Homo sapiens: one gene and its partners. Changing the gene in region 1 together with any one later gene gives a genetic interaction. Each region holds a gene or a part of one and is shown in the gene's direction. Other genes may lie near its edges. The genes, in order: EIPR1, CTCF, RPRD2 and SEC23IP.

Region 1 (7,036 bases):
CACTGACTTCCACAATGGTTGAACTAGTTTACAGTCCCACCAACAGTGTAAAAGTGTTCCTATTTCTCCACATCCTCTCCAGCACCTGTTGTTTCCTGACTTTTTAATGATTGCCATTCTAACTGGTGTGAGATGGTATCTCATTGTGGTTTTGATTTGCATTTCTCTGATGGCCAGTGATGATGAGCATTTTTTCATGTGTCTTTTGGCTGCATAAATGTCTTCTTTTGAGAAGTGTCTGCTCATATCCTTTGCCCACTTTTTGATGGGGTTTTTTGTTTTTTTCTTGTAAATTTGTTTGAGTTCATTGTAGATTCTGGATATTAGCCCTTTGTCAGATGAGCAGGTTGTGAAAATTTTCTCCCATTTTGTAGGTTGCCTGTTCACTCTGTTGGTAGTTTCTTTTGCTGTACAGAAGCTCTTTAGTTTAATGAGATCCCATTTGTCAATTTTGGCTTTTGTTGGCATTGCTTTTGGTGTTTTAGACATGAAGTCCTTGCCCATGCCTATGTCCTGAATGGTAATGCCTAGGTTTTCTTCTAGGGTTCTTATGGTTTTAGGTCTAACGTTTAAGTCTTTATTCCATCTTGAATTAATTTTTGTATAAGGTGTAAGGAAGGGATCCAGTTTCAGCTTTCTACATATGGCTAGCCAGTTTTCCCAGCACCATTTATTAAATAGGGAATCCTTTCCCCATTGCTTGTTTTTGTCAGGTTTGTCAAAGATCAGATAGTTGTAGATATGCGGCATTATTTCTGAGGGCTCTGTTCTGTTCCATTGATCTGTATCTCTGTTTTGGTACCAGTAACATGCTGTTTTGGTTACTGTAGCCTTGTAGTATAGTTTGAAGTCAGGTAGCGTGATGCCTCCAGCTTTGTTCTTTTGGCTTAGGATTGACTTGGCGATGAGGGCTCTTTTTTGGTTCCATATGAACTTTAAAGTAGTTTTTTCTAATTCTGTGAAGAAAGTCATTGGTAGCTTGATGGGGATGGCATTGAATCTATAAATTACCTTGGGCAGTATGGCCATTTTCACGATATTGATTCTTCCTACCCATGAGCATGGAATGTTCTTCCATTTGTTTGTATTCTCTTCTATTTCATTGAGCAGTGGTTTGTAGTTCTCCTTGAAGAGGTCCTTCATGTGCCTTGCAAGTTGGATTCCTAGGTATTTTATTCTCTTTGAAGCAATTGTGAATGGGAGTTCACTTATGATTTGGCTCTCTGTTTGTCTGTTATTGGTGTATAAGAATGCTTGTGATTTTTGTACATTGATTTTGTATCCTGAGACTTTGCTGAAGTTGCTTATCAGCTTAAGGAGATTTTGGGCTGAGACAATGGGGTTTTCTAGATATACAATCATGTCGTCTGCAAACAGGGACAATTTGACTTCCTCTTTTCCTAATCGAATAGCCTTTATTTCCTTCTGCCTAATTGCCCTGGCCAGAACTTCCAACACTATGTTGAATAGGAGTGGTGAGAGAGGGCATCCCTGTCTTGTGCCAGTTTTCAAAGGGAATGCTTCCAGTTTTTGCCCATTCAGTATGATATTGGCTGTGGGTTTGTCATAGATAGCTCTTATTATTTTGAGATACTTCCCATCAATACCTAATTTATTGAGAGTTTTTAGCATGAAGCGTTGTTGAATTTTGTCAAAGGCCTTTTCTGCATCTATTGAGATAATCATATGGTTTTTGTCTTTGGTTCTGTTTATATGCTGGATTACATTTATTGATTTGCGTAGATTGAACCAGCCTTGTATCCCAGGGATGAAGCCCGCTTGATCATGGTGGATAAGCTTTTTGATGTGCTGCTGGATTCAGTTTGCCAGTATTTTATTGAGGATTTTTGCATCAATGTTCATCAAGGATATTGGTCTAAAATTCTCTTTTTTGGTTGTGTCTCTGCCCGGCTTTGGTATCAGGATGATGCTGGCCTAATAAAATGAGTTAGGGAGGATTCCCTCTTTTTCTATTGATTGGAATAGTTTCAGAAGGAATGGTACCAGTTCCTCCTTATACCTCTGGTAGAATTCGGCTGTGAATCCATCTGGTCCTGGACTCTTTTTGGTTGGTAAGCTATTGATTATTGCCACAATTTCAGATCCTATTATTGGTCTATTCAGAGATTCAACTTCTTCCTGGTTTAGTCTTGGGAGAGTGTATGTGTTGAGGAATTTATCCATTTCTTCTAGATTTTCTAGTTTATTTGCGTAGAGGTGTTGGTAGTATTCTCTGATGGTAGTTTGTATTTCTGTGGGATTGGTGGTGATATCCCCTTCGTCATTTTTTATTGCGTCTATTTGATTCTTCTCTTTTTTTCTTTATTAGTCTTGCTAGCGGTCTATCAATTTTGTTGATCCTTTCAAAAAACCAGCTCCTGGATTCATTAATTTTTTGAAGGGTTTTTTGTGTCTCTATTTCCTTCAGTTCTGCTCTGATTTTAGTTATTTCTTGCCTTCTGCTAGCTTTTGAATGTGTTTGCTCTTGCTTTTCTAGTTCTTTTAATTGTGATGTTAGGTGTCAATTTTGGATCTTTCCTGCTTTCTCTTGTGGGCATTTAGTGCTATAAATTTCCCTCTACACACTGCTTTGAATGTGTCCCAGAGATTCTGGTATGTTGTGTCTTTGTTCTCATTGGTTTCAAAGAACATCTTTATTTCTGCCTTCATTTCATTATGTACCCAGTAGTCATTCAGGAGCAGGTTGTTCAGTTTCCATGTAGTTGAGCGGTTTTGAATGAGTTTCTTAATCCTGAGTTCTAGTTTGATTGCACTGTTGTCTGAGAGATAGTTTGTTATAATTTCTGTTCTTTTACATTTGCTGAGGAGAGCTTTACTTCCAACTATGTGGTCAATTTTGGAATAGGTGTGGCGTGGTGCTGAAAAAAATGTATATTCTGTTGATTTGGGGTGGGGAGTTCTGTAGATATCTATTAGGTCCGCTTGGTGCAGAGCTGAGTTCAATTCCTGGGTATCCTTTTTAACTTTCTGTGTCGTTGATCTGTCTAATGTTGACAGTGGGGTGTTAAAGTCTCCCATTATTATTGTGTGGGAGTCTAAGTCTCTTTGTAGGTCACTCAGGACTTACTTTATGAATCTGGGTGCTCCTGTATTGGGTGCATATATATTTAGGATAGTTAGCTCTTGTTGTTGAATTGATCCCTTTACCCTTAAGTAATGGGCTTCTTTGTCTCTTTTGATCTTTGTTGGTTTAAAGTGTGTTTTATCAGAGACTAGGATTGCAACCCCTGCCTTTTTTTGTTTTCCATTTGCTTGGTAGATCTTCCTCCATCCTTTTATTTTGAGCCTATGTGTGTCTCTGCACGTGAGATGGGCTTCCTGAATACAGCACACTGATGGGTCTTGACTCTTTATCCAATTTGCCAGTCTGTGTCTTTTAATTGGAGCATTTAGTGCATTTACATTTAAGGTTAATATTATGTGTGAATTTGATCCTGTCATGCTGTTAGCTGGTTATTTTGCTTGTTAGTTGATGCAGTTTCTTCCTAATGTCGATGGTCTTTACATTTTGGCATGAGTTTGCAGCGGCTGGTACGGTTATGCCTTTCCATGTTTAGTGCTTCCTTCAGGAGCTCTTTTAGGGCAGGCCTGGTGGTGGCAAAACCTCTCAGCATTTGCTTGTCTGTAAAGTATTTTATTTCTCCTTCACTTATGAAGCTTAATTTGGCTGGATATGAAATTCTGGGTTGAAAATTATTTTCTTTAAGAATGTTGAATATTGGCCCCTACTCTCTCCTGGCTTGTAGAGTTTCTGCCGAGAGATCCGCTGTTAGTCTGATGGGCTTCCCTTTGTGGGTAACCCGACCTTTCTCTCTGGCTGCGCTTAACATTTTTTCCTTCATTTCAACTTTGGTGAATCTGACAATTATGTGTCTTGGAGTTGCTCTTCTCGAGGAGTATCTTTGTGGCATTCTCTGTATTTCCTGAATCTGAATGTTGGCTTGCCTTGCTAGATTGGGGAAGTTCTCCTGGATAATATCCTGCAGAGTGTTTTCCAACTTGGTTCCATTCTCCCCATCACTTTCAGGTACACCAATCAGGTGCAGATTTGGTCTTTTCACATAGTCCCATATTTCTTGGAGGCTTTGTTCATTTCTTTTTATTCTTTTTTCTCTAAACTTCCCTTCTCGCTTCATTTCATTCATTTCATCTTCCATCACTGATACCCTTTCTTCCAGTTGATCGCATCGGCTCCTGAGGCTTCTGCATTCTTCACATAGTTCTCGAGCCTTGGCTTTCAGCTCCATCAGCTCCTTTAAGCACTTCTCTGTATTGGTTATTCTAGTTATACATTCGTCTAAATTTTTTTCAAAGTTTTCAACTTCTTTGCCTTTGGTTTGAATTTCCTCCTGTAGCTCGGAGTAGTTTGATCGTCTGAAGCCTTCTTCTCTCAACTCGTCAAAGTCATTCTCCGTCCAGCTTTGTTCCGTTGCTGGTGAGGGACTGCGTTCCTTTGGAGGAGGAGAAGCGCTCTGCTTTTTAGAGTTTCCAGTTTTTCTGCTCTGTTTTTTCCCCATCTTTGTGGTTTTATCTACTTTTGGTCTTTGATGATGATGATGTACAGATGGGTTTTTGGTTGGATGTCCTTTCTGTTTGTTAGTTTTCCTTCTAACAGACAGGACCCTCAGCTGCAGGTCTGTTGGAGTTTGCTAGAGGTCCACTCCAGACCCTGTTTGCCTGGGTATCAGCAGCGGTGTCTGCAGAACCGCGGATTTTCGTGATCCGCGAATGTTGCTGTATGATCGTTCCTCTGGAAGTTTTGTCTCAGAGGAGTACCCGGCCGTGTGAGGTGTCAGTCTGCCCCTACGGGGGGGGTGCCTCCCAGTTAGGCTGCTCGGGGGTCAGGGGTCAAGGACCCACTTGAGGAGGCAGTCTGCCCGTTCTCAGATCTCCAGCTGCGTGCTGGGAGAACCACTGCTCTCTTCAAAGCTGTCAGACAGGGACATTTAAGTCTGCAGAGGTTACTGCTGTCTTTTTGTTTGTCTGTGCCCTGCCCCCAGAGGTGGAGCCTACAGAGGCAGGCAGGCCTCCTTGAGCTGTGGTGCGCTCCACCCAGTTCGAGCTTCCCGGCTGCTTTGTTTACCTAAGCAATCCTGGGCAATGGCGGGCGCCCCTCCCCCAGCCTCGCTGCCACCTTGCAGTTTGATCTCAGACTGCTGTGCTAGCAATCAGCGAGACTCCGTGGGCATAGGACCCTCCGAGCCAGGTGTGGGATATAATCTCCTGGTGCGCTGTTTCCTAAGCCCGTCGGAAAAGCGCAGTATTTGGGTGGGAGTGGCTCAATTTTCCAGGTGTTGTCTGTCACCCCTTTCCTTGACCAGGAAAGGGAACTCCCTGACCCCTTGCACTTCCCGAGTGAGGCAATGCCTCGCCCTGCTTCGGCTTGCGCACGGTTCGCTGCACCCACTGACCTGCGCCCACTGTCTGGCACTCCCTAGTGAGATGAACCCGGTACCTCATATGGAAATGCAGAAATCACCCGTCTTCTGCGTTGCTCACGCTGGGAGCTCTAGACCGGAGCTGTTCCTAGTCGGCCATCTTGGCTCCTCCCTGAAATATTATTTTCTGAGGTTTGAAAAATGAATGAAATTGATTCTCTAAGGTAGTCAAATATATTATTGGATTTTCTTCTTTATCTTAAAAGAAGTAGCTGACTTTTGCTACTTGGATTTTATCGGATAGTATCATGGACCAAGACTTTCTTAAGTTTGAAGAACCATCATTGCAGTAAACAAGAAAACTGAAAAGGATAGTGTTTTTTTTTGTTTGTTTGTCAGTGACATTCAAATCCCATGGAGAACACTTTACATGAAAGGATAGAGATCTGATCGTTGACCGCTGAGTGAAGGTAATGACACTTGAAAGATAAAGGGCAGTACTGCAACTGCAAATAAAAGACCAACACGGAGGGTCGTTAAGATCGCAAAATGCTGAGCAAATTCATGGTAATGATTCTGGATTTTTTTATAATTATATTTGAAATGCATGAAATTTCAAATGATATTTGAAATGCTTTTGCACACTTTTAGTTTACTGCTCAGTAGAAATCCATTTTCTCAATATGAGTTTAATGAATACTTGTCAGTTAACACAACAGTAGTTCTTTGTGACTATCTCAAAGTGCATACAAACAGTATGACTTCTCTCCTGCAATCATGTTTCTTTGAACTTTTGACATTAATAGATCTTCTTTGTTGTGTGGGTCAAATCTCCATGTGGCAAACTTGCCTTGTGATGGGAACAGTGAACCTCTAGGCAGTGGTGGCTCTGCCCATGTGTAGGTCTGGGGGCAGGCATGTGACTAAGATGGACCAGCGGCAAGCAGGGCCTGCAGGTGTGGGCAGAGTGAGGGCTACATCTGCCAACTCCTATTTGAGCCCACTGCTGCCAAGTGAGCTGGGCCAGACCAGAAAGGACGGTCGGGGTGGGAAGGTGGGTGACAATGATGACTTGGGCTTGTTTCAAGTTGCTTTCCCTTCGGTTTACCACCAAAACCAGGAAGCAAGCAGGGCAGGTTGTAAGCCACACAAGGATATGCGTGCCTCCTTTCTGTTCTGGGAGGTTCTCCTGGAGTCCTGAGATCAGTGCAGTCAGGTCAGAGGGGCAAAGAGACTGTGGGCTTTTGGCTTTTTGTGCCATCAGTCTGAGGGACAGATGGACCAGGCCAGCGCTTCAGGGTCTGCCTGTTGCCAAGTGAGGAAAGACTTTTGAAATGGAAGATGGAGATTAAATTTTCTTTTCTTTTTTCTTTTTTTGAGACAGAGTCGCTCTGTCACCCGGGCTGGAGTGCAGTGGCGCGATCTCAACTCACTGCAAGCTCCGCCTCCCGGGTTCACGCCATTCTCCTGCCTCAGCCTCCTGAGTAGCTGGGTCTACAGGCGCCTGCCACCGCGCCTGGCTAATTTTTTGTATTTTTAGAGAGGGGGTTTCAGGGTGTTAGCCAGGATGGTCTCGATCTCCTGACCTTGTGATCCGTCTGCCTTGGCCTCCCAAAGTGCTGGGATTACAGGTGTGA
Region 2 (4,188 bases), on another chromosome or scaffold:
AGAGTTTCACTCTTGTGGCCCAGGCTGGAGTGCAGTGGCGGATCTCAGCTCACCGCAACCTCCGCCTCCCAGGTTCAAGTGATTCTTCTGCCTCAGCCTCCCGAGTAGCTGGGATTACAGGTATGCGCCACCACGCCCAGCTAATTTTATATTTTTAGTAGAGTCAGGGTTTCTCCATGTTGGACAGGCTGGTCTCAAACTCCCAACCTCAGGTGATACACCCACCTCAGCCTCCCAAAGTACTGGGATTACAGGTGTGAGCCACCACGCCCAGCTGCCAGTTTCTTATTTCTTGTAGAGATAAGGTCTCACTATGTTACCCAAGCTGGTCTTGAACTCCTGAACATGAGTGATCCTCCAACCTCAGCCTCCCAACGTGCTGGGATTACAAGTGTGAACCACCGTGCCCAGCCTTAAATTGATTTTTCTTAATAATTGGCTGAGCATGCTGGCTCACACCTGTAATCCCAGCACTTTGGGAGGCCGAAGCAGGCAGATTGCCTGAGGTCAGGAGTTTGAGACCAGCCTGGCCAACATGGCGAAACCCCATCTCTACAAAAAATACAAAGATTATCTGGATTGGCTGGGCACGTTGGCTCATGCCTGTAATCCCAGCACATTGGGAGGCCGAGGCAGGTGGATCACCTGAGGTCAGGAATTCAAGACCAGCCTGACCAATATGGTGAAACCCCATCTCTACTAAAAATACAAAAATCAGCCAGGTGTGGTGGCGTATGCCTGTAGTCACAGCTACTCAGGAGGCTGAGACAGGAGAATTAAACCCAGGTTGCAGAGGTTGCAGTGAGCTGAGATCGTGCCGCTGCATTCCAGCCTGGGCGACAGAGTGAGACTCTGTCTCAAAAAAAAAAAAAGAAGGAAAAAAAAATTACCTGGGCATGGTGGTGCGTGCCTGTAGTCCCGGCCACTCAGGAGGCTGAGCCACGAGAATTGCTTGAATCTGGGAGGCAGAGATTGCAGTGAGCCGAGATCGCGCCACTGCACTCCAGCCTGGGCAATAGAGTGAGACTGTCTCAAAAAAAAAAAAAGAAAGAAAGTGTATATATATATATATATATATTTATAAAACAAGACTTCAAATAATATATAATTGTTTTCTTTCATCTTCCACCACCCTTCTCCTTGCCCCACCACCTGTGCTTCCTGATTTCATGAAAAGAAAATGCTGAACCAGATCTGGACGACAATGAGGATGAGGAGGAGCCTGCCGTAGAAATTGAACCTGAGCCAGAGCCTCAGCCTGTGACCCCAGCCCCACCACCCGCCAAGAAGCGGAGAGGACGACCCCCTGGCAGAACCAACCAGCCCAAACAGAACCAGCGTAAGTTGTTCATCTCTGCTCTGGAGGCTGGCGTCTTCTCCGAGCATGTGGGGGAGCCAGATGGGTCCTTGTTCTTTGGGGATGTGGGAACTAAGCCATGAGAACAAGTTAAGGGCATGTCGAGAACAAACTCTCAGGAAATGGCTTTTTAGGAGTTTTTACTGAGGAACATCTGAGGAAGTCTTTAGAGGCCTGTTACATTTCAAGAAGAAGTCCAGAGTAGAAGGGTACTTGTGTTCTGCAAGATGGGTACTGTTAATGTGGGCGGGTTTTGAAAAACAACCAAAGTCACAGTCAGCTGGCAGAATGGATGCGGTAATGAATATAAAAGAGCCAAATCGTAAAGGTTGGAGAGGGAAAGCAGTTTCTGCACTGAGATTGCCCCTTCTAAGAAACTCAGGGTCAGGCGGTGGCTCATGCCTGTGATCCCAGCACTTTGGGGGGCCAAGGCGGGAGGATCACCTGAGGTCAGTAGTTCCATACCAGCCTGGTCAACATGGTGAAACCCCATCTCTGCTAAAAATACAAAAATTAGCCAGGCGTAGGGGTGGGCACCTGTAGTCCCATCTACTCAGGAGGCTGAGGCAGGAGAATTGCTTTAACCCGGGGGGCAGAGGTTGCAGTGAGCTGAGATCATGCCCGTGCACTCCAGCCTGGTCATAGAGCAAGACTCCGTCTCAAAAAATAAAATAAAAAATAAATTGACTGTCTCTGGACCGCTATCTAATAAGGCTGTCCTGCATTGCTGACATCCCGTTCGCTGTCAGTCTAAAAGACCCTTGTGATTCTTGGGGCTTTAATGGACCATTTGTTCTGTCTGTGCTCTTCTTTGCCAGCAACAGCTATCATTCAGGTTGAAGACCAGAATACAGGTGCAATTGAGAACATTATAGTTGAAGTAAAAAAAGAGCCAGATGCTGAGCCCGCAGAGGGAGAGGAAGAGGAGGCCCAGCCAGCTGCCACAGATGCCCCCAACGGAGACCTCACGCCCGAGATGATCCTCAGCATGATGGACCGGTGATGGCGGAGCCTTGTGCGTCGCCAGGACTTCTCTGGGCTGTGTTTAAACGGCCCGCATCTTAATTTTTCTCCCTTCTTTCTTTTTTTGGCTTTGGGAAAAGCATCATTTTACCAAACATACCGAGAACGAAAACTTCAAGGATGATGTTAGAAAAAAATGTGATTTAACTAGAACTTGCTGTCTGATGTTAGCAAATCATGGAATGTTCTGAGTCCCTGAGGGTTTACTGTGAAGTGCTGAGGACAGTGTTGACAACTAACTCGTTTTCCTAGATGGAAACGGAGACATTGACCCCTCCCTCCATGTGGTAAACCACTCCAGAATGGCCACCAGGCTTCCCAGAGTTCTATGGTCTTCTTCCCAAGAGAGTTTTTAATTGTAAATGCATACTTGGGAAGGACTTAGAGTTTTAAACTGTTTTTTGCTTTTGCTTTTCCCTGACTCCCTTTGCTTGGAGTCAGCTGCACACCAGTAGTATGGCATGCTACGATCAGGTTCTGTCCTGAAAGCTTTGCCTCTTTCTTGGCAAAGTTTCTGGTATGGTCAAGCTTGTAAATAACTTTTTTTACATTTTAATCTTTTCCATTAATTAAGAGGTTGAAAAGAAGTGCAGTGTAAGAAAACCCAGCATTTTAATTACTTGCAAATTAAGTTACCACAGACTCTGTAGTGTGTAAATGTTGACAAGGAATTGGATCACAATCATGTAGCAGAATGGCACCCAGACCACTGCCCACCAGTGACGGACATGCACGTGGCAGATCATGATTTCCAGCCCACGGAGCCAGCATTTGAACCTTGTATAATTAACTTTCAGTTATGATTTCCCATCGACATTTTCTTTGCCCTGTTTGTAGCTGATTGTTGTGTTTTATAAATCTTCTGTTAAGGCAGAAGGGTGATTATGAGTGGTTCACAGCAGCCCTTATAAGCTGGGCCAGAAAATTTCACTAGGTCAGTAATTTAAACCTTGGATCTTCAAAAAATAAAATAATGTGAAGCAAAACCAACTAAAAAGTGATTCTTGCACATGAACTGTCACATGTTTAAAAATGTGTTTTTTAGAGAGCCTCAGTCTTACTGATTTCAAACACTTTTTTCTTCTGTGTATTGCTTTTAAGAGAGCCATCAGTTAGCTATCAGACTCTAGGTTGATGCATTTTGTACTTAGCTGTACTGTGTGATATTTTTCATTATTTTAGGACGCCAACATGAGACCTGTAATAAAATATGTAATGGGGTTGAAAGCTGGGGAGGAGGATCTACTGCTGTACAGCTAATAAATCATAACGGATTAACAAGTGCTCCAAAGACTCCATCTTGCGTGATTCCTGCCTGCTTGAGGGAGGCTGGGGGGCTGCATACATGGTTCCAGGCTGTGCAGGCTGCTGCCTTTCACAGGCAACCTCTGTTCCCTGGGATGGTACTTTCTCTAGCAGATGGGACGATATGATCTTGGCGGGTGACTGGATATTGAGCGCATCCTGCTGTAACTGTTTTTTTGTTTTGTTTTGTTTTGTTTTGTTTTGTTTGAGATGGAGTCTCGCTCTGTTGCCCAGGCTGGAGTGCAGTGGCGCAATCTCAGCTCACTGCAACCTCCACCTCCCAGGTTCACGCCATTCTCCTGCCTCAACCTCCCGAGTAGCTGGGACTACAGGCGCCTGCCACCATGCCTGGCCAATTTTTTGTATTTTTAGTAGAGACTGGGTTTCACTGTGTTAGCCAGGATGGTCTCGATCTCCTGACCTTGTAATCCGCCTGCCTAGGCCTCCCAAAGTGCTGGGATTACAGGCGTGAGCCACCACACCCGGCCCCTGCTGTAACTTCT
Region 3 (7,036 bases), on another chromosome or scaffold:
GAGCCACCATGCCTGGTGGTCATTATCCTTTTTTTTATTTTAGACAGAATTTCACTCTTGTCGCCCAGGCTGGAGTGCAGTGGCCCAATCTCAGCTCACTGCAACCTCAGCCTCCCAAGTAGCTAGGATTACAGGTGCCCACCACCACATCCAGCTAATTTTTGTATTTTTAGTAGAGACGGAGTTTTGCTATGTTGGCCAGGCTGGTCTCGAACTCCTGACCTCAGGCAGTCCACCCACCTCAGCCTCCCAAAGTGCTAGGATTACAGGCGTGAGCCACTGCGCCCCTCCTATTTTTTTTATATTTATCATCTATGAGCTGACATCTGAAGAATTATAAAATGTGAAAGCTGAAAGAGACTAAGTATTATCTAGTCTAATCCCTTACTTTTCAGGTAAGGAAACTAAGGCTCAGTAAGGTGAAAAGATCTGCTTATGGTCACATACCTATCTGTCTATTCAGTATGAGCCAAGACTGAAGGCCAGATTTCTTGACTGGAGTTCAGTATTCTTTCACCTACACCATGACACCCTAGGGGCTGCATTAGTCCCAGCTTTTAATACAGGTTTATATATGTTGAGTTTTATTAATTTCAGTGTTAACCAAAGCTGAAGACAGTAGGAAGGGTCCATTTATTATCAAAAAATATGGCCAGGTGCAGTTGCTCACGCCTGTAATCCCGGCACTTTGGGAGGCTGAGGCGGGCAGATCACCTAAGGTCAGCAGTTCAAGACCAGCCTGGCCAACCAGGTGAAATAACATCTCTACTAAAAATATGAAAATTAGCCAGGTGTGGTGACACACACCTGTAGTGTGCTGAGATCGCAGTAAGCCGGAATCACGCTACTGCACTCCAGCCTGGACGACAGAGCAAGACTCAGTCCAAAAAAAAAAAAAAAAAAAAAAATTTTTTTATGACGCTTCAAGAACATAGTGAAACCCTGTCTCTACAACGGAATTAAAAATTAGCGCCGGGCGCGGTGGCTCACGCCTGTAATCCCAGCACTTTGGGAGGCTGAGGCAGGCGGATCATGAGTTCAGGAGATCGATACCATCCTGGCTAACACAGTGAAACCCCGACTCTACTAAAAATACAAAAAATTAGCCGGGCGTGGTGGCGGGCACCTGTAGTCTTGGCTACTTGGAAGGCTGAGGCAGGAGAATGGTGTGAACCCAGGAGGTGGAGGTTGCAGTGAGCCAAGATTGCCCCACTACACTCCAGCCTGGGCAAAAGAGCAAGACTCTGTCTCAAAAAAAAAAAAAAAAAAAAAATTAGCTGGGCATAGTGGTGCATGCCTGTAGTTCCAGCTACTCAGGGGGCTAAGGCAGGAGGATCACTTGAGCCCAGGAGTTCAAGGCTGCAGTACGCTGTGGTCACCCCACTGTACTCCAACCTAAGTGATGAGACCCTGCCTCAAAAAAAAAAAAAAAAAAATTTCTGAGACATGAATATATCTTTTTTTGTCCTAATGTTTTATAGAGGCTTCATTATTTATTATTTTATTTATTATTTTATTAGAGTCTTAGATGTAGTATTTTTGTTTTCACCTACCTATAATCTCTCTCATTTGACCCTTTCTGTTCAGCTTTACTAATTATGTTTTGTGCATGACACTGCCTGTTTCTAACCTTTTTTCATAAATCTTTCCTACTCTCTACTCTCTTATGCTCCAGATACCAATGAAATCCTTTTTAAGTACCGTAGTATAATTATGAAATGAATTACAAATACCAGGGCAATATATTCAGTGTAGTGATTTACTCTATATCAGTAGTCTCAACCAAAGGCCTCCAGGGAGGACACTTGGCAATATTTGGAGACCTTTTTAGTTGTCTCAACTGGGGTAATGGTAGGGGTGCTACTGCCTCTAGTGAGTAGAGGCCAGGAGGATGCTCCTAAATATCCTACAATGTGTGAGACAGCCCCAACAATAAAGAATTATCTAGCCCAAAGTGTCAGTAGTGCTGAGGTTGAGAAACCCTGCTCTCTATCAAAGGAGTGGTGTAAAACAGTTTCCTAAACTGTTATGTAAGTGGATCATTCAAGCATATTATAGTGAACTTTGTCTGGAGGTGCAGAAGAATTTTGTTACACAGAACTAAATAGTATTAAGTAATAATCCACAGCCCCTATCTATTGGCATCAGCAATAAAGAATTGATGATGACTGCAGCACATGTTGTACTACTAATATCAGGGACAATTTGAGAGTTTGACATGTTTATGCTTTCTCCCTTTTTATTTTTATTTGTTTGTTTGTTTTTGAGACGGGGACTTGCTCTGTTGCCCAGGCTGGAGTGCAGTGGTGTGATCTCGGCTCACTGCAACCTCTGCCTCTCGGGTTCAAGTGATTCTCTTGCCTCAGCCTCTCGAGTAGCTGGTATTACAGGCTCACACCACCATGCCCGGCTAATTTTTGTATTTTTAGTAGACACGGGGTTTCGCCATGTTGGCCAGGCTGGTCTCGAACTCCTGACCTCACGTGATCCACCTGCCTCGACCTCCCAAAGTGCTGGGATTACAGGTGTGAACCACCGTGCCTGGCCGATGTGAAATTTCTGATGAGGCAAAATTTGAACAGAACTAGGTTCCTTATGGAATGTGGAATTCTCTTTGACTTTTAAAAGGATTGTATCTAGCAAGTTAAATAGATGTATTTCCTCGAAGACTGTTAATGAAATCCCAGAACTTTGTTCTGATTGTGTCATCCACAGCCCTAGGTATTGACAGATTTATAACACAAAAGAGAGACTTCAGGCCCGGTGTGGTGGGTCACACCTGTAATTCCAGCACTTTGGGGACGGGTGGATCACCTGAGGTCAGGAGTTCAAGACCAGCCTGGCCAACAGGGTAAACCTGTCTTTCCAAAAAAAAATACAAAAAAATTAGCTGGGCGTGGTGGCTCACAGCTGTAACCCCAACTACTTGGGAGGCTGAGGTAGGAGAATCGCTTGAACCCGGAAGGCAGAGGTTGCAGTGAGCCAGCCTGGGCGACGAGCAAAACTCTGTCTCAAAAAAAGAGAAACTTCAGTGGGCAAAGGAGCAGAGTATGACTTGTTATGATTAAAGAGCAAACTTTTGGCTGGGCGCAGTGGCTCATGCCTGTAATCCTAACACTTTGGGAGGCCACGATGGGAGGATCACTTGAGGCCAGGAGTTTGAGACCAGCCTGGTCAATATAGCAAAACCCCTATCTCTATTGTTTTTAAGAATTTTTAAAAATAATTAAAAAAAAAAAAGATTGGAGAACAGTAATATTTAGTGGTGAGAGACAATTTTACCTATTACCAGAAATCTGAGTAGTATATCTATCTTAAAAAGATGTTCTTTTGAAGAAGTTATCCCAAAATATCTGAAAAATATGCTGAAATATCTTCTAAAAATCATATTACATTATTATATATCACATTCTAGTGTTTGAGGACTTCTGGGTTTTGTGAGAACAGTGATTACTAAGAATTAAATCAGGCTGGGCATGGTGGCTCACGCCTGTAATCTCAGCACTTTGGGAGGCTGAAGTGGGACAATCACTTGAGCCCAAGATTTTGAGATCAGCCTGCGCAACATGGTGAGACCTTGTCTCTACTAAAAATAAAAAAGTTAGCTGGGCATAGTGATGTACACCTGTGGTCCCAGCTACTCAGGAAGCTAAGGCAGATAAATCTTTTGAGCCCAAGAGGTTGAGGTTACAGTGAGCTATGATCGCACCACTGCACTCCAGCCTGGGTGACAGAGCAAGAGCCTGTCTCTTGAAAAAAAAAAAGGAAACTATTAGTAGGGATGAATTATGTGGCTAGGGAACTTTTTTTGGAATGAAACATGCCGATTTTTTTTTTTCTTCAGAAGGATCATAACTAAAGTAAACATTATTTCAGTTGTTTGGATATTACTGAATATTGGATAACAATAAAGACCATCCAACATTATTTAGAAATAAATGGCTTTAAAATGTTACAAGGATGGAGGGGACTTGAAATTCTTTAGGCCAAATCTGTTAGAATATGGGTTAAAATTGAAATTTTGAAGAAATGTTAATTGAAATATCACATGAAGTATTTTCTTTAATCATATAATTACTAAGGAACAATGTTAGTGTATTCAGTGACTAAAAGCTATAAATTTGGGTGAAATGTATATTAAAAATTTTTTTAATTAATTTATTTTTAAATACAGAGACTCACTTTGCCACCCAGGCTGGTGTGCAGTGGCAGAGTCATAGTTAGTTTACTGTAACCTTGAACTGGGCACAAGTGATTCTCCAGCCTCAGCCTCCTGAGTAGCTAGGACTACAGGCATGCACCATCATGCCCAGCTGATTTTTAAATTTTTTTTAGAGACAGAGTCTCTCTGTGTTTCCCAGGCTGGTCTCAAACTCCTGGCCTCAAGCCATCCTCCTGCCTCTGCTGCCCAAAATGCTAGGATTACAGGCATGAGCCACCGTGCCCAGCCAAAAGTCTTCATTTGTGACCAGAAATTGGGTAAATTTTTAAAAATATGATTGAATTTATAGAACCTTCTGTTATCTTTTTGTCAAATATTTTTCTAAAAAATTTTCTACAGGAGCAGTTTGCTTTGTTGAACTTCAGCCTTTGCCCCAAAGAATTCTTTCTCAGTGCTTCTGAGAAAGTTTTGACTGTCAGTGAACACAGTTAAATTCCATCATTGTCAATCTGGACTAAATAATCCTTGGATTTTCCACACTATAAAATGGGGATTGTGTGTTTTCTTGTGAAAGGACCAGTGTCCCTGGTGGTCTGTCTTTGTAAGTCTTTGTGGTGTATGTTTGTTATAGCTACATTTTACAACCAAAACGGATGGTTGAAAGCATTGTTTTTCAAAAAGTAACAACAGTCTACCAAGAGGTGCTTCTTGAAAAAGGTGTTTGCTGTTCAGATAAGTTTCTGAAATTTGCATTTGCCTGTCTCCCGCTTGAAAATAACAATGTATATTAACTTATTAGAGATAATAAGTTTGAAGGTTGAAGGTTGGTTTGAAGGTTGGACAGGAAAGGTAGAACAGATCTGTTTGCATTTAGAGAAACACTTCCACAGATCAAACATTAAGAAATACTGGCTTAAAGTGTTGTTTTAAGAATAACTTTGCCTCCTTTCTTTTCCTGCTTTGCCTAACTTAAACTATGAATGATTCTGACATTAAAATCTCCCCCTTCCTGTTGCCTTTTATTGTGCCATGTTGGGCTGATTTCTGGACTGTACTGGAAACATTTCAGTGATTTGCTCTTTATTGATAAAATAGGCCCTGTATTTTCTGTGACATTTAGCCATTGCTTGTTTGGTCTGGATTCCTTTTGGCCTTACACTTTGTCTATCTGGTTCCCACCAAAATGAATGAGAGTATCTGATTAGCCTACATTGTTTGCATTGTATGATAGGGAGTTGTTCTTTTTAACCCCTCTAATCTTTGTTTCTACAGGCCTGTCATCTTTACTTCAGAGTGTTACTGGGAACCCAGTTCCAGCCAGTGAAGCTGCCTCACAGAGCACTTCAGCCTCCCCTGCCAACACCACAGTCTCTACCATAAAGGGAAGAAATCTGCCCTCCAGTGCCCAACCTTTTATTCCCAAAAGCTTCAACTATTCTCCTAACTCATCAACTTCTGAAGTCTCTTCAACTTCAGCCAGCAAGGCCTCAATTGGGCAAAGCCCAGGGCTCCCAAGCACTACTTTTAAACTACCTTCCAACTCTTTGGGGTTTACAGCTACCCACAATACTAGCCCTGCTGCCCCACCTACTGAAGTTACCATCTGCCAATCTTCAGAGGTCTCCAAGCCAAAGCTGGAGTCAGAGTCCACCTCCCCAAGCCTGGAAATGAAGATTCACAACTTCTTAAAAGGTAATCCTGGTTTCAGTGGCTTAAACTTAAACATCCCAATCCTGAGCAGTTTGGGGTCCAGCGCCCCATCAGAGAGCCATCCCTCAGACTTCCAGCGTGGCCCTACTAGCACCTCAATCGACAACATTGATGGAACCCCTGTACGGGATGAACGGAGTGGGACACCCACCCAGGATGAGATGATGGACAAGCCCACATCCAGCAGTGTAGATACTATGTCCCTGCTTTCTAAGATCATTAGCCCTGGTTCCTCAACACCCAGCAGTACAAGATCACCACCCCCTGGGAGAGATGAAAGCTACCCCCGAGAGCTCTCCAATTCTGTATCTACATATCGACCCTTTGGTCTGGGCAGTGAATCTCCCTATAAGCAGCCTTCTGATGGAATGGAGAGACCATCTTCCCTGATGGACTCTTCACAGGAAAAGTTCTACCCAGATACTTCTTTCCAAGAAGATGAGGATTACCGAGATTTTGAGTATTCAGGGCCTCCACCCTCTGCCATGATGAACCTAGAGAAGAAACCAGCCAAATCTATCCTGAAATCAAGCAAGCTGTCTGATACCACCGAGTACCAGCCAATTCTGTCCAGTTATAGCCACAGAGCCCAAGAATTTGGGGTAAAGTCTGCCTTCCCTCCATCTGTAAGGGCCCTCCTGGACTCTAGTGAGAACTGTGACCGTCTCTCATCTTCCCCTGGGCTATTTGGTGCCTTCAGCGTAAGAGGGAATGAACCTGGGTCTGACCGGTCACCATCACCGAGTAAGAATGATTCATTTTTCACCCCTGACTCCAACCACAATAGCTTGTCTCAATCTACCACTGGGCATCTCAGTTTGCCACAGAAGCAGTACCCAGACTCTCCTCACCCAGTCCCACATCGTTCCCTTTTCTCTCCGCAGAACACCCTTGCCGCTCCCACGGGTCACCCACCCACGTCAGGCGTGGAGAAAGTCCTGGCCTCCACCATTTCCACCACGTCGACGATTGAATTTAAGAATATGCTTAAAAACGCCTCACGTAAGCCCTCAGATGATAAGCATTTTGGCCAGGCTCCCAGCAAGGGCACTCCAAGTGATGGTGTCAGTCTCTCAAACCTCACCCAACCCAGCTTGACCGCCACTGATCAGCAGCAACAAGAAGAGCACTACCGCATAGAAACCCGCGTCTCCTCCTCCTGCT
Region 4 (7,036 bases), on another chromosome or scaffold:
AGACAGGCATATGTGAAGTCTGAAGGTGTGAAAAAATCTTCAGATTTGGCAGGAGTTAGTGGTTGGTGGAATGGGACAGGGATGGAGCTCATCCCTCTCTCCTGTCCCTTCACCTTTGTCTCCTCTCCCCTGTGTCCTCTGCCCCCAGTAGATCACTTTGACTAGAGTGTGTGCAGTGGAGTGGCCTCAGTGATCTATGGGCCACATATGCCATACTCAGGAGGAGTTTGTAGTTCATCTTGTGGGGTGTTGGGGAGCCTTTGAAGGATTTTCAACAAGGCAGTGAAATTAGACGTGTGTTTCAGAAAGACTGGAGTTTTCTCTAGTCGCACTGGAATAAGGTTGACTGTAGCAAGAGGATTCAGTTGGGAGGCATAGTGAGAGGCTGGCAGTGGCTATGGCAGTCTAGCCTGAGTCAGCCACATTGGGTGTGAGGAGCAGGGAGCAGATGTGCGAGATGTGTGGACTATACAGTTGTAGAGACTCACAGAAGACCAGAGTGTCAGCTCTGTCTGTCAGAACAGAGGCCCATTTTTGTTTAGTTTTAGACCCAAGACTGAGCTCTGTACCTGGCACAGAATGCATCCTGAGTAAATATTTCTTGAATAAATATTTGAATGATTAAATGAAGGGTTTGAGAGAGAGGGAGGAGTCTCAGACTTGAGGTTTCTGGTTTGAATGTCTGAATGAATGTTGGCAAACATCTGTGGAGATTGTGAAATACAGAAAAGGGAGCATGGAGGTGGGTAGTTAAGATAAACTCCGTTTTAGGCTTACTAAGCATGAGGTATATGTGACTGAATCTGCCAAAAACATTGAGGAAGTAGTTGGAAAACAAGTTCTGGAACACACGAGAATGGTCTGGGCTTACGATGGAGTTGGGAGTGTCACAAATATACAAGTGCCTGTTAAAGTTGTGGCTTTAGATGACATGTGTCCAAATGAAATGAGAAAGTGCCCCTGAGGTGAGGGTAGCAGTATATGGAGAGCACTTCATTTGTAGTTGATGCTAATCAGAAAAAAAGTTTCTCGGACCAGGTTGACCTCAAGTTTTTCTAAAGGATGAAAGATACCACTGAGTTTTTTTTTTTTTCATTCTTTTAATTGTTGGGAATGAACTAAGAAATACAAATAAGTCCAAGTGAGGGTCACTGACCTGAAAAGAGGGGTGGGAGCTGGAAATATATCAGAGAAGTGGAATGATTCAAGTAGACACAAGGCCTTGTGCAGCAAGGGATATTTTATTTTTAGTTACAAAGAAACTACCAAAAGGAGTATTTTGAATGGTGGAGTATTTTAGTTAAACTGATGTGTGTAAATAATGAGAGCTCAAGAAGCTCAAGCCCTAGTCTCAGCAGAGGTCAAGAAGCTTGGAGCCCGGAGCTTGGAATAAGGCTGCCTGTTGGCAGGTCTCCAAGGGCAGGGACCGAAGTGTGCCTGTGTGCTGTGAGTGAGTCCAGCCCTCTGATGGATTCCATGCCTCCAGCAAGGAGGTAAGAGGGAATGAGGCAGGAGCAGGGAAGATTAGGAGGAGGAATATGAAAGCTACAAGCTAGGGAACATAAAAGTTTCGTAAGGAATAATAGTAACGTGGACTTTTGAGGTGATATACAGGGAAGATGCTTTTATTTTACAACTTGGTAGTAGAACAGAAGCTAAATTATTTGGAGTCGTTAATACCCACAGTGAACATCAAGTTGGGCAAAGGGATGGGAGATCTTCCCTTGGTTAGAAAGTGACCTTCTCAGCAATTTGGTATTCTGTAATGATAAGTCTGTGATAGTGCATGATTTTAGGGAATGGCAATTAATGGTTGACCTACTTGGGAATACAAATACCACGTGTTCATTTGTACAATAAGTGCTTTGTAGGTGAGATTCCTGACACACCCCTTCTTGTCAACAGAGTTATCTTTAGTCTCTTGTTATCACTATAGAAATAAAAATATATGTATTTGGGTAGTCGAGTAACAGTTGAATTATTTCTTACCAAGAAAAAAAGATAAAAAATAATATGTAAGGCTGGGCACGGGGGCTCATGCCCGTAATCCCAGCACTTTGGGAGGCCAAGGCAGGCAGATCACTTGAGGTCAGGAGTTCAAGACCAGCCTGGTCAACATGGTGAAACTTCATCTCTACTAAAAAAAAAAAATACAAAAATTAGCTGGGTGTGGTGGTGGGTGCCTGTAATCCCAGCTACTCGGGAGGCTGAGGCAGGAGAATGGCGTGAACCTGGGAGGCGGAGCTTGCAGTGAGCTGAGATTGCGCCACTGCACTCCAGCCTGGGCGACAGAGCGAGACGCCGTCTCAAAAAAAAATAAAAAAAAAAAAATAAATAAAAATAGTAAGTATAGATTTTGTTTCTATTTTTAAAAACATATACAAATATATATTTACAAAATAAATAACTATTTGTATTTATTTTAGAAGTATGGAAGGGTATGTAGCAAAATGTTAACAGTGTTAACAGCGTGATTGTCTCTGGCAGGTGGGCTTATGAATGAATTATAATTGTTTCCTCTTATGTTTTCTTATTCATGTTTTCTAGTTTTTCATTTCTAAGAAGCAAGTTTTCAAAGAAAAAAAGAAAAAACTGTTTTTTTCTGTAATGCAGAAATAGCAAGTTTGAAGAACAAATAAGGAAGTATAATTGCTAGCCCTTCCTTATAGAATCGTATCTGCGGAGTGATAGAGTACCCTTTAAACCACATGCTCTCCTGTTCCATTTCAGAGGATTCCACAGATGTTGGTGAGGAGGACAGCTTCCTTGGTCAGACTTCTATTCACACATCTGCCCCACAGACATTTAGTTACTTCTCTCAGGTATCAAGCAGCAGTGATCCTTTTGGGAATATTGGACAGTCACCATTAACAACTGCAGCAACCTCAGTTGGACAATCAGGATTCCCCAAGCCCCTGACTGCTCTCCCTTTTACAACTGGATCCCAAGATGTCTCGAATGCATTTTCACCATCCATTTCGAAGGCTCAACCTGGTGCTCCACCTTCCTCACTGATGGGAATAAATTCTTATCTGCCTTCTCAGCCAAGTAGTCTCCCTCCTTCATATTTTGGGAACCAACCCCAAGGAATTCCCCAACCAGGATACAATCCATATCGCCATACCCCTGGCAGCAGCAGGGCTAATCCTTACATTGCACCACCCCAGCTGCAGCAGTGCCAAACACCAGGCCCTCCTGCTCATCCTCCACCTTCTGGACCCCCTGTTCAGATGTACCAGATGCCTCCAGGATCTTTGCCACCGGTATGGAGACATGATTTTGTGTCCTACTTATTCACTCTGTGTCTTCTTTCTCACCTGAACCTATGTTTTAAAAAACATTTCACATCTTATAATCAATATGGTGACAAATTAGTTTCAGAGGGTATTCTTTGTAAGCTACATGAAGTAAACATTGTCTTAAAGATAGCTTATTGGATGGCTCATATTTTAGTGTATATTACCTGTTTATTGAAGCAGTAACTGATTTTAATGAGTTAGCTACGTGTCAGTATTTCCAGATTTTAGAGTACGGTAAAAATAAGTGTTGTCTAGAGACATAGGAGAATTGAAGCGGTTATTGTCTTAACAGACTGCTAGTTTCTCATCTTTCAATTACACTAGTCAATCAAAACACTCAATTACAGGGACTAAAATTGATTACTTCAGTAATTTCTTTATGGAGTTTGGATCTAGATCAGTCAAACTCTATCTAGGGAGAGTTGGTGGAATAACGTATGCATTGGGTAAATTTCATGAAATTCCCTTATGCATTTTTCCCAACTAATTGTTTATTTGATTTCCAAAGAAAAATCAACAGAATTAAACAAAAAGAGAAATGATTAAAAAGAATTAAGAACCCATTTCAGTGTGGTGGAGATAGCAGTATTGTGATCAGAATGTAACTAACTTCTCTGTTAGAGATAGAGAATGGACTCTGTTTTATCATTTCATTTAAATCATACCAATACACAAATTTTTGACAATGTTGGATTTCGGCATTCTGAAAAGTAACCAGATTCATAGCATGTGGTATATAGTTAGTATTTTTGCTAACTATAACAAACTAATTGTAGTTTGTTGCTTAAATTTTTAAAAAGGTTTTTAGATAAAAGTTTAAAAAATGATAATTTCAAACTTGAAGAAAAGTTGCAAAAATAAAAAGAGTACAAAGAGCACTCTAATATCCTTTACTCAGGTTTACTTATCATTAACATTTCATCCCGTTTGTTTTTTAATTTGTGCATGTGCACACCCTGGCATATGTGAGCCCTCCCTCTTCCCCCATCCCTTTCTCCTGCCCCTTCCTCCTGCTTCTCCTCCTGCCCCTCCCTCTTCCCTCCCTTCCCCTCATCGTTTTTTTCTCTTTCTGTATATATGCAATTTTGGGGGGAATATTTGAAGGTCAGTAAAATACATTATGATTCTTTACTCCTAAATTCCTGGTGTACATTTGCTAAGCATAAGGACATTCTTCTTATGTGCACAGTGCAGCTATGAATCTCAGGAAATTGAGTGTTGATGTAATACTTCAAAATGATTTTTTAGAAATTATATATGTGTATGTATATGTACGTGTGTGTGTATGTGTGTGTGTGTGTGTATATATATATATATAAAATTTTTTTTTTTGAGGCCAGGTCTTGCTCTGTCACTCAGGCTAGAGTGCAGTGGCATGGTAACGGCTCACTGTAGCCTCGAATTCTCAGGTTCAAGTGATCCCCCTACCTCAGCCTCACCAGTAGCTGGGACCACAGGCACATGCTGCCATACCTGGCTAATTTTTTTTTTATGTTTTGTAGAAATGAGGTCTCACTATGTTGCCCAGGCTGGTCACAAACTCCTGGGCTCAAGCAGTCCTCCTGCCTTGACCTCCCAAAGTTCTGGGATTATGGGCTAAATTATATATTTTTTTGAGACTGGGTCTCACTCTGTTGTCCAGGTTGGAATGCAGTGGCGCAATCACAGCTCACCTGCAGTCTCAAACTCCTGGGCCTCAAGTGATCTTCCTGCCTCAGCCTACCAAAGTGCTGGGATTACAGGTGTGAGCCACCACACCTGTCCCAAAATGGTGTCTAATTAAAAAATTTTAAAATAAGTCTAGTCTGATTTTAAAATCGTTTTTGTAGAAAATTTGAAAAATGCAGAATACTCAATTTAATAAAAAATGTCCATAGATAACCACTGTTTTCATTTTGTTATATGTCTTTTTTTGGCAAACATATAATACCTATGGTTTCTATAATCTATTTTTTTTTTGTGTGAACATACTTTAAATGTTACTAAGATTTTTTCTAAAACATTAAAATTTTTTTCTTTTTCTTCTTCTTTTTTTTTTTTTTAAAGAGTGGGGGGGGGGTCTTGCTCTGTCATCCAGGGTGGAGTGCAGTGGTGTGATTACAGCTCACTGCAACCTTGAACTACACTTCAGCCTCAGGAGTAGCTGGGACTACAAGTGTGCCCCACCATGTCCGTGTGATTTTTAGATTTTTTTGTAGAAACGGTATTGCTGTGTTGCTCATGTTGGGCTCAAACTCCTGGCCTCAAATGATCCTCCTTCCTTGGCCTCCCAAAGTTCTGGGATTATAGGTGTGAACCATCGTGTCTATCCTCTAAAACTTTTATTTTTGTTTATTTACTTATTTTTTTTTTTAGCTATCTCCTGCAGAAAGGATATAAGACATTTTTAATGGCGCTGGAGGATCTAGCATTTGAGTTAAATATTATTTAATCAGGTTTCTGTTAGACATTTTGATTATTTCCAGTGATTTCCTATTTTATTTATTTTTTTGCAAACATTCCAAATTTATTAGCTATGATTTTATAATCAACATTATTGAGGTATAATTTACATACAGTAAAAGGCATCCATTTACAGTATACAATTCGATTTATTTAAAGTGTACAATTAGCTGAGTTTTGACAGTTGTACACACCAATTTCCTATTTTAAATAACCTTTTGATGTATATCCTTGGGGATAACTTTTTATTTTTATTTTTTATTTATTGTTTGAGACAGAGTCTCTGTCACTCAGGCTGGAGTGCAGTGGTGCAGTCTCAGCTCACTGCAACCTCCGCCTCCCGGGTTCAAGCGATTCTCCTGCCTCAGCCTCCCAAGTAGCTGGGATTGCAGGCCTGTGCCACCACGCCCAGCTAATTTTTGTATTTTTAGTGGAGACAGGGTTTCACCATGTTGGCCCGGCTTGTCTCGAACTCCTGACCTTAGGTGATCCACCCACCTCAGCCTCCCAAAGTGGCAGGATTACAGGTGTGAGCCACTGCACCTGGGCTATTTGTTTTTATAATTCTATCTTTAGGATAAATTTTTAGAAATGGAATGAGTAGGTCAAGGAGTAGGCACATTTTAAAGGTTAAATAGGCCGGGTGTGGTGGCTCACACCTGTAATCCCAACACTTTGAGAGGTCAAGGCGGGCTGGTCACTTGAGGTTGGGAGTTCGCAACCAGCCTGACCAACCTGGAGAAACCCTGTCTCTACTAAAAATACAAAATTAGCTGAGTGTGGTGGCGCATGCCTGTAATCCCAGCTACTTGGGAGGCTGAGGCAGGAGAATCGCTTGAACTCGGGAGACGGAGGCTGTGCATTGCGCCGTTGCACTCCAGGCTGGGCAAGAAGAGCAAACTCCGCCTCACACACACAAAAAAGGTTAAATAAATCATGGGAGATGTATTGCTAGATTGATTTCTGTAAAGGTGTTAGTTTACTTTGTGTTCTGTGAGAAGGTCTGGTTCACCTTGTAATTGATTTTTTTCTAAATTTTTTAATTTTTAATTTTTGTGGGTACATAGTAGGTATATATGTTTATGGGTTACATGAGATATTTTGATACAGGCATGCAATGTGTAATCATCACATCAGGATAAATGGGGTATAGATATCCCTCACCTCAAGCATTTATCCTTGATTTGGGGTTTTGTTAGGTTTAAAAATTCTTCTTAAAATTGCTTTGGGGTCTAGTTATTACACTAAGTAATTGTCCAGATATACATGTAGGATAATCTACTAACATCAGTTTG

Evidence for each region.
Region 2: changes in EIPR1 (region 1) and CTCF are lethal when combined (synthetic lethality), as found in Homo sapiens cells (one study listed by BioGRID).
Region 3: changes in EIPR1 (region 1) and RPRD2 are lethal when combined (synthetic lethality), as found in Homo sapiens cells (one study listed by BioGRID).
Region 4: changes in EIPR1 (region 1) and SEC23IP are lethal when combined (synthetic lethality), as found in Homo sapiens cells (one study listed by BioGRID).

What each region holds. Positions count from the first base shown.
Region 1 is NC_000002.12:3,367,783-3,374,818, reverse strand, and holds part of EIPR1 (EARP and GARP complex-interacting protein 1), read left to right. Parts: intron 1-7,036. UniProt on the Homo sapiens protein: Acts as a component of endosomal retrieval machinery that is involved in protein transport from early endosomes to either recycling endosomes or the trans-Golgi network.
Region 2 is NC_000016.10:67,635,513-67,639,700, forward strand, and holds the end of CTCF (transcriptional repressor CTCF), read left to right. Parts: intron 1-1,177; coding exon 1,178-1,339; intron 1,340-2,175; coding exon 2,176-2,360; 3' UTR 2,361-3,665; downstream 3,666-4,188.
Region 3 is NC_000001.11:150,465,127-150,472,162, forward strand, and holds part of RPRD2 (regulation of nuclear pre-mRNA domain-containing protein 2), read left to right. Parts: intron 1-5,434; coding exon 5,435-7,036.
Region 4 is NC_000010.11:119,895,697-119,902,732, forward strand, and holds part of SEC23IP (SEC23-interacting protein), read left to right. Parts: intron 1-2,730; coding exon 2,731-3,263; intron 3,264-7,036. UniProt on the Homo sapiens protein: Plays a role in the organization of endoplasmic reticulum exit sites. Specifically binds to phosphatidylinositol 3-phosphate (PI(3)P), phosphatidylinositol 4-phosphate (PI(4)P) and phosphatidylinositol 5-phosphate (PI(5)P).